Linked DNA regions of Homo sapiens: all the other regions are reported to be linked to region 1. The links are microRNA targets in miRTarBase. Many come from high-throughput screens and were not tested one by one. Region 1 holds a microRNA gene; each other region holds the end of a gene's coding sequence.
What was found. The annotated mature microRNA hsa-miR-4279 reads CUCUCCUCCCGGCUUC and lies in region 1 at 2,038-2,053, shown strand. An mRNA with a match to its seed (bases 2 to 7 or 8) in the 3' UTR can be bound and repressed. Matches are read on the target gene's strand: a 7mer-m8 pairs with bases 2 to 8, a 7mer-A1 pairs with bases 2 to 7 and ends in A, and an 8mer does both.

Region 2: miRTarBase lists TOR1AIP1 as a target of hsa-miR-4279. Seed matches in the 3' UTR shown: 7mer-A1 at 1,527-1,533.
Region 3: the mRNA of CAV2 is a reported target of hsa-miR-4279. Seed matches in the 3' UTR shown: 7mer-A1 at 2,024-2,030.

What each region holds. Positions count from the first base shown.
Region 1 is chr5:31,934,979-31,938,164 of GRCh38, reverse strand. MIR4279 (microRNA 4279) reads left to right here and starts at 2,006; the gene lies at 2,006-2,063. All of the region lies in intron 2 of PDZD2 (PDZ domain containing 2), which reads right to left.
Region 2 is chr1:179,917,517-179,920,702 of GRCh38, reverse strand. It overlaps TOR1AIP1 (torsin 1A interacting protein 1), which reads right to left. Exons shown (of 10, transcript NM_015602.4): 10 at 627-3,186. The coding sequence ends at 2,464. Among named protein-coding and RNA genes, the nearest start is that of CEP350, 36 kb to the left of the region's middle.
Region 3 is chr7:116,505,556-116,508,741 of GRCh38, forward strand. CAV2 (caveolin 2) reads left to right here. Exons shown (of 3, transcript NM_001233.5): 3 at 416-2,986. The coding sequence ends at 566. Among named protein-coding and RNA genes, the nearest start is that of CAV2, 7.4 kb to the left of the region's middle.

The DNA of each region.
Region 1 (3,186 bases):
CGAGGTGGGCAGATCACTTGAGGTCAAAAGTTTGACACCAATCTGGCCAACAGAGTGAAACTCTGTCTCTAAATGGGGGCGGAAATCAACAGACCAACCAGCAAACCAGCAAATGTTTTTTTCTAAAGATCGGATAGGCTTTGTGGGTCACTATCTCTGTCCTATATTCTTCTTTGTTTCTTCAACTCTTCAAAACATAAAACACATTCTTAGCTCCCAGGCCATACAAAAACAGGCTAGGGCAGTCTGGATTTGCCTAAGGGCCATAGCTTGCTGAACACCGCTTCCAGCAGGAACCCTGGGAAGGAACCTGTCCCCAACACAGCTTCTAAGTCACTGCAGATAGCACCTGGGACAGATCAGTCTGAAGGATGGGAGACAAAGGGGACACACACAACAGGTGAACAGTAGGCAAGAAAGGACAAGAGTTGGGGTGGCGACGGTAGGAACATGGGGTGAAAAAGTTTTCTAAAAGACCACAGGAGGTGCCGTTCCTCCTCCCATAGAAGGCTAGCTGTGTAATGCTGAGAAATCACACGGAAAGAGAGACTAGCAATGATGTGTGGGCTTGCTTGACTAAACACAGCCATCCCCCAGCCCTCCAGGACTAAAATGCAAAGCCACAAAACGTGGCCACCACGGCATGAGGATGACCACAGCATGAGGATGCCAGCCAGGCAGTAAGCAGTAACCCAAGCAGCTCCCAATTTTGCCTTTTCAGACACACCCCTGTGGCTACGGGGCATTCTCCAAACCTCAACGCAAACAGTTCCAGGATTCAGGCTGGGCTATTCTACCGAAACAAAATTCTCCACCTACCTCTGACGTTCTTCTCAGGCTGACCACACGCACCATTTCTATCCAACCTCCTCCATGTTAGCCCAATCCCCCAACACCCTGGCCACTTCATTAGTGAGGGAAAACATGTCAGATCATCCCAGTGCCCAGGAGAAGCAAGGCCTAGAAATGATTCAGAACCTGGGGCTGGAGATGATCTTTATTCTGTTCTACTTCTCTTATCACAAGCCCCAAACCTTGACAACGGAAGGAACACCCTGAGACTCGGCTACAATCATGGGAATCAAAAATCAGTTTTAAAATTATCCTTGCATGTGGCTGCCACCCATGGTCCTCCCCATTTATTTTCTACTTCTGAGTGTGAAACGTCACTGTGACAGTTTCCAACCCTCTGCACTCCCCCCACTCCATGACAAATATTCAGGATTCACACTTCACTTTCACACTGCTTTCCAATCCCTTGACTTAGAAGCCGAGCAGAGGCAGCCTGCCTTAATGGAGAAAACATTAGTGCATTCGGGCTTCACTCTGGATCCCAGTCAATTTCTGGATATTTCACAGCTGTTATACATCCACCTCCTTTCTTACAAAAGCCAGCAAAAATTAGTGAGCACCTCGTTGGCTCTGAAATATGAAAATGGAGCCACAGTCAAGCCTGAAAATCGGTTTCTGGTTGACTCCCTTCAAAGTATTTGTTCTAAAACACAGTGTCTGCAGTTCATTTATCATCTGCCAATTTTTAAATGAGTTTAAATTAAAAAAGCTTCAATGCTGCATGCTTTTTTTCTTTTTTTTTTTTTAAAGCAACTCTCAGAATAAAACTGTCATTTGGTCATCACACTAGTAACTGAGAGAACTCTTGCTTGGGCAGATATCAGCACAATTCAAGCTGAGTCTTTTATGTTATTATTACCTGCTCATCTCTCATATAATTAAAAAATAATAAACCCTTGGAAGACCTGTAAGTTGTGTTCAGAGAGAAAATGTGATTCTCTTCACCACTCAGGTCTCCCGTCCTACCTGCTTTATGAGCTGGTCAGGTGAGCGTGCTCTGCTGTGCTTCAGCAGCCTCTGGAATGGGACAGACTCCAAAGTTGGTTGTGCTTCACTTCCCTTCTCCATTCAGGTCTTTAAAGTCCTGGGTTATTAACTATCAACAAAAATACAAGCTGCGCCATGCGTGCTCCAACTTCCTGCCAGCTCCCCATGCTCTGTGGAGCTGAGGAGCAGATTCTCTCTCTCTCCTCCCGGCTTCACCTCCTGAGCTCCAGAGCCCCACCCACCCACAGCACTCAGATCATTTTTCATTTATGAATGCATCCAGCCACGCTGTGTTTGTAAGAGAAGGAGCCAATCCTTGCCCTGCCAGTGTATTGGAACCAGGCTGCTATAAACGGTTCTAATTTTCCAGGAGTATGGGGGGAAATCATATCCCAGCAGACATCATGCATGGCTTCCTCCTGCAGGTATCTGCAGATCAGCTCTTCCATCACCAAAGGACGCACACTTGGCCACGGACCACAGCTGCTTCATTCTACAGACTGCCAGGGAGGAGGACTGAAGATTTCAGGCAGGAGAAAACCAAAATACTATCAAAATGTGTACTTCACATAACTAAAAATGTGAAGCTAGGATGATCAGTGAAGAAACTTTCCACTCAGTGACCTGATATTTCACAATACATTTAATCTGTCTTGCACTTATTAAAGGGCCAGATTTTTTTTTAAATTGCATCCAAATGCAAACAAAAATCAAGGGGTTAAATTATTTTATAAAGAAGTCTGTTGGGAAATAAAAGCCATTTGTCTTGATGACACCAAATTTACAACTTTTCTACTCCGACTAAGCTTCCAACTTCCATTGTAGACAAGTACTAGCAAAACCAGAAATTATCAGTCAGCCCTTGAGTTGCTGAAAAAATCCTCAACTTTTAAACACAATATGATTTTTCTAAGGTTTTATCAGGAAATAGAATGTTAAAAAATAGGCTTCCCTAAACCAACACACATATATAGTAGTTTCTATTATGGGTAAAATTTGCCTTGTTTTACAGCTGAAGCCAAAGGGGTCTTTCATGATCCAACAGCCAGAGACAAAGATTCCAAAAACCTTTGGTGCAGGTATAAAAATGTACATGTGCAACTTAAATGGGAATGACATTTTATTATTCCAATACTCACAAGGTCCTTTGTTAGCTATACTTGTAAGGAACAAAATAGGAGCAAACATCCTCTGTTTACTTCTTGCAGCCATTCTATTTTCTTTCTTTTTTTTTTTTTGAGACAGGGTCTGGCTCTGTTGCCCAGGTGGGAGTGCAGTGGAGTAATCTCGGCCCACTGCAACCTCCATCTTCCGGGTTCAAGAGATTCTCCTGCCTCAACCTCCTGG
Region 2 (3,186 bases), not on the chromosome of region 1:
TAGCAAATAGAACATTTTAGGCAGCAATTATCTAAAACGTGGATGCTCTTGAGCATGCATTCTCAATGGGGGTGAAAATTGGTTCATTGGGGACAAAAAAAAATTCTATTTTGTATAAAGCAAAAAACATTTACAGTCCATAAACAGATACATAGTATATATCTGGTGTTGAAATATCATGGGGAAGGGGTGACTAAGAAAAAAATCTAAAAAAGTTCTTCAGGGAGGTGATAAAGAAAAGGTTAAGAAGCCAGGTGTAGTGACTTATGCCTGTAATCCCAGCTACTTAGGAGGCTTAGGCAGGAGGACTGCTTGAGGCCAAGAGTTCAAAAACAGCCTGGGCAATATAGCGAGATCCCATGTCTACTTAAAAAAAAAAAAAAGAAAAGCTGCTGTGGAGATTCTTTTGCTAAGTCAGGAATATCTAACTTAACTGTATTTTTAAAAACCCTAAGTGCCGAGATAAAATGGAAAGTTACGGCTATTCCACTTCTAACCAATGTACTTGCAAATGGCTCCAGTTCTTTGATTTTTGTTTCTCCTAGCCAGAGTTGCTACAATTGTTCAAGGAAAATACTTGGATTTCTTTTTTTAAAGATGATAAATCATTAAGTTTATAACACATAGAGAGTATAAACCAAGAAAGTAAATTTATTTAAATTACTAAAATAGCTTTTAAAGTCATTTACAGATCAGCTGCTATAATTATTTTTCCTGAAAGACATAGGTAACATATTACTTTTAAATTACTTGGGTCAATGAAACATTTAATAAAAACATTTGTTTCTCTATATAATACGTATGTATAAAATAAGCCTTTTCAAAAACTCTGGTTTTCATAATCCTCTATAAATCAGATGATCTGACTTCTAAGAGGAACAAATTACAGTAAGGGGTATACATTTATGAATACTGGTAGTACTAGAGGAAAGACGTTAAACCACTCTACTACCACTTGTGGAACTCTCAAAGGGTAAATGACAAAGCCAATGACTGACTCTAAAAACAATATTTACATTTAATGGTTTGTAGACAATAAAAAAACAAGGTGGATAGATCTAGAATTGTAACATTTTAAGAAAACCATAGCATTTGACAGATGAGAAAGCTCAATTATAGATGCAAAGTTATAACTAAACTACTATAGTAGTAAAGAAATACATTTCACACCCTTCATATAAATTCACTATCTTGGCTTGAGGCACTCCATAAAATGTATCACGTGCATAGTAAATCTTTATATTTGCTATGGCGTTGCACTAGAGGACTTGGACTGCAACAAGTGGATGCGCGGAAAATGAAATCTTCTTCAATAGCCCAGGACAGCTGGTTAACAAATGGTTTGTCAATTCCTGAAACTCATTTCTTAATTCAAAACAAAAGCTTCAGGGTGTGTCCAAAATAAACTGTTACGAATTGACCTACTTTTTTTTTTTTGAGACGGAGTTTCATTTTTGTTGCCCAGACTGGAGGGCAATAAGCATGGTCTCGGCTTACTGCAACCTCCGCCTCCCGGGTTCAAGCAATTCTCCTGCCTCAGCCTCCCAAGTAGCTGGGATTTCAGGCATGCACCACCACGCCCAGCTAATTTTTGTATTTTTAGTAGAGACGGGGTTTCACCATGTTGGCCAGGCTGGTCTTGAACTTCTGACCTCAGGTGATCCACCTGCCTTGGCCTGACCTACTCTTAAGACTCAAGTGAACAAATATATTAAATTTTGCAATATACATGAAGAATCCTTGGGACAGCCAAGAATTTTTCTTCAAGGAAGGAAAAAGGAGATGTAAAAAACAAATCCCAACGGAATCCACCAAGATTAACAGTTCATATACCTATGTTTGACTAAACTACATCTCAGTGGATTACTGTAACATTTCCTCCCTTCAGCTTCCCCATTAATTTTCCTTCCTTGCCTTGTTCTTTCCATTTTCCAAAAAACAAAAGAAAAAAATTCCAAACACACACCTAGATGACCTTTCATTACTTATGTTCCTATAGGCAGAAGCTAAGGAACTCACACCTAAATGGTATAAAAGGGAACATAATGGGAAAATCCCTGGTTACATTTAGGGAGCAATCTTACTAATAACTCAGGAAACTTAGTGAGAAATCTAAGTTAAAAAATCAGGAAGGTTCATAAGAAAGGACACAAATCCCTCTCACTGGTCATACCATAACTGTAATAACTCAGCCCAGAATCAAAACAGATTCTCTAAGGAACTGCATATAATCTGCACTCCTAAGATACCTTTAACAGAGCTCTCAATGGAAACTGAAATGATTCTCTCATATCACAGATAATTAGGTTGAATGAATGATTTATATGTTCCATGTTTATGTAAGCACTTAACTTCTTTAAAAAGAAACTAGTTCTTTCAAAAAGAGCTCTGAATTCTGTCTCTGGTTAGAAAGTGTGAACAATTCTCAGAACTTGGGACATGATTTTTCTTCTCTCTCACTTCTTATAAGCAGATGCCCCTTTTCAGGGCATTTTCAGGTTGCACAGGCAGAACTAAGTGAGAAATACGGCTCCAGAGGCCATTCAGTTTGTCTGGGTCCATATGATTGTAGGAGTTGGGTGTGTTAGAATTGGTGAACTTGACTTTAAGAAAATCTCTTACTTTTTCTTCAACTTCCTTTAGGCCTAGACTTGTTCCAAGTGTCTCTTCCTCCAATAAGACAGTCAGGACTAAGGCTACATCTTTGAAGGCCGCGTTTTCATGGTCACAATATTTGTAGAAGATCAAAGTAGAGCCTGCGGGAAATGACTCAAAGCGGTGTACCACAGCTGCATTCTGGCCATTCTTAAATCCATTGCTCAGTTCTTGGTCTACCTCTAGTTTGACAGTATCACTGTCTTGAGTAGCTTTATCTGTCCCATCAATCCGGATGGCACGGACACTACGAAAAGAAGAATAGGCATCAGCAATTTGTTCACTCAGACACCTAAGTGCTTCTTCAGCATCTCGGGCAGCAGTGAGCAGTAAGATAGCAGGCTGAGACCGAGGATGGGAGCTATTAAGATGTTTTTCCAGGAATGTTTGGCTCCTTTTCCACAGCTTCTCATCTTGACCTTGGTACTTATTCTTAAGTTGATTCATCTGGTTCTGGAACTCTTGAACAGCAGTGGTTTCTACCTCAGGAGTACTAAAGAACCAAAAACTCCCAGAGGCAAGAGCAGCTAT
Region 3 (3,186 bases), not on the chromosome of region 1:
TATAGTGGAAGGAGAAGGAGGAGCAGGCACGTCACATGGCAAGAAAGGGAGCAAGAGAGAGAATGTGGAGGTCCCAGACTCTTTTAGTTAATCAGATCTCAAGCAAACTAACTGAGTGAGAACTCACGTTACCAAGAGGGTGGCAGGCACTAAGACATTCATGAGGGATCTACCCGCTGTGATCCAATTATCCCCACTCGGCCCCACCTCCAACACTGGGGACTACATTTCAAAATGAGAGTCAGGGGGACAAAAAACCCAAATCATTATCAGTGATCATTGTTCATTTATTTGTTTCAAACTCTCAACCAAATTTAAGTAAATGGGTCAGTATTTTATCTTTTCATACATGTACAAGACAGACCTTATTTGGTAACAGCAACAATCCTCACACATCTCTCTTCCTTCCTTCCAGGATTTTAATGCCTTTTGTAAAGACCTGCCTAATGGTTCTGCCTTCAGTGCAGACAATATGGAAGAGTGTGACAGATGTTATCATTGCTCCATTGTGTACGAGCGTAGGACGATGCTTCTCTTCTGTCAGCCTGCAACTGAGCCAGGATTGAATACTTGGACCCCAGGTCTGGAGATTGGGATACTGTAATACTTCTTTGTTATTATAACATAAAAGCACCACTGTTCTGTTCATTTCCTAGCTGTTCTAATTAAGAAAACTATTAAGATGAGCAACCACATTTAGAAATGTTTATTGACAGGTCTTTTCAAATAATGCTTTTCTAATTAATAGCCAAAGATTTCATATCTAACTTTGTAACCAGAATTATACAGTAAGTTGACACCACTTAGATTTAAAGGCAGACAGTTTTGCTTTAGTACAATAGTATACATTTTATAATGATGAACTTATAATGATTAAGGGACATTTCTATAAAAATACTACAATAGTTTTATGCACAACTTCCCATTAAAAATGAGATTTCTTATTTGTTTGTCTGTTTTTACTCTGGGAGTAATACTTTTTAAATTACCTTTACATATATAGTCACTGGCATACTGAGAATATACAATGATCCTGGAAATTGCAGTAACAAAAGCACACAACGATTATAGTAACTATAAGATACAATAAAACAAATAAATATGAAAGTAGATTCATGAAAATGTATTCCTTTAAAATATTGTTTTCCTACAGGCCTATTTAACAAGATGTTTCATTTTACTGTATATTTTGTAGTTAATATAAATGTTGCTCTAATCAGATTGCTTAAAAGCATTTTTATTATATTTATGTTGTTGAACTAATATATGAAATAAGTAAATGTAGCTCCCACAAGGTAAACTTCATTGGTAAGATTGCACTGTTCTGATTATGTAAGCATTTGTACATCTTCTTTGGAAATAAAAGATAAAAGAGCGATACACAAAGCTTTCTTTTCTAACTTTTCCAAGCAAAATCTAAAATGTTTTATGACATTTTTCTGGCTGTGATCTTAAAATAATTCATATCTAAATAGTATTTTGTCTAGGAGATGCTTTCTCTCTAGTAGTTAGAAATTAAATCTGTGTCAGCATTCCTATTAATGTCTCACTTTACTTTCAAGTAATATTGGTGCTATTTAACATTTTACAGTAAATGTTACTTCTGATACTTTAGTACAATTTCAACTACAGTGATTCATGTAGAGAGACAGGGGAGTTGTCAACTTGGGCTACTGAACTACATGCATAAACTAAAAACTAACAGCTACAAACTTTTAAGATTTCTCTAATATTGGTATGTAACACAGGATAAAGTTATTCTTGTCATTTTGAACTGTAGAGTCCTATTTCAGTGTGATGAATCACTGTTGCTTTGAAAAATCTCATTATTTCTGGGCCGGGCATGGTGGCTCACCCCTGTAATCCCAGCACTTTGGGAGGCCAAGGCGGGTGGATCATGAGGTCAGGAGATCAAGACCATCCTGGCCAACATGGTGATACCCCGTCTCTACTAAAAATACAAAAAAATTAGTTGGGCATGGTGGCATGCACCTGTAGTCCCAGCTACCTGGGAGGCTGAGGCAGGAGAATTGCTTGAACCTGGGAGGCAGAGGTTGCAGTGAGCCAAAATCATGCCACTGCACTCCCGCCTGGCAACAGAGCAAGAGTCTGTCTCAAAAAAAAAAAGAAAAAAAGAAAAAAAGAAAAAAGAAAAATCTCATTATTTCAAAATGATAGACATATACCAAAAACAAGTCTATAATGTGAGTAGTTACTAAAATTTACACATCTTAAAAGTGTGTAAATGCTTAAATTTCAGAATTACCATCAGAACCTCAATTGACATTCCTTTGAATACGCTAATAAGTGACAAATAAGATTAATAAGATTTTTCAAAATCGCCAGGACTGGTGAATATAAATGATGATTGAACTGGAATAATATTGGGGACCAAATCAAATGAATGATTAAATTATGAAGCTCATATCCTTTTGAAGGTAGTTGCAAAGAGACATTTCAAAACTGCCCTAGGCCATTGCAGCATCCTTAGATGGGACGCATAATCATTACCTTAAAGCATCACCACTCATTTTGACCATATAGATTTTATTATGTTAGTTTAAAAGGTCAATCAGCCTCATGACTTTATAGTTATGTCTTGTATTTAAAAACATTTTTTATACATTTGGTTATGTTGATAAACCAAAAACATTTGATTAATAAAATATCTATTTGAATAAATTATGAGCTATCCTTTCAAACAGCTATTGGCAAGTTTTAAACCCAAAATATATACACATAGTTCTGTAATAAAACTGTTTGACTTCTCAAGTAACATGACTTCCTTATTTCTGAACAGTACTGGTTACTTTCAAAATGAATTTTTATTGAGATTTTCCATTAACTATTTTTTTCAAAGACTCAAATTTTGTACCAAGTAAATCCAGGCTTTATGTACAAACATGTTGTTTGTTTTATTTGGGGCTGGGGGAGGTATATGATGAGCAGACTTCTCGGAATTCATAATAAATTTTCTAAAAGCCTACAAATGTGTGTATTGCTTTTATTACAGTAAATATGGAATCTTTCATACTTATTTTTACCTTATTAAAAACTCAAAATAGATAATAAATACATTAGTTATTGCTTATTTGGGAATGTATTTTTAAAAATTATTACATTAGTAGTTGAATTCTTTGTTTTCCAGCACTTAAAGAGGTTCCATATAAATGTTCTATCATTTGA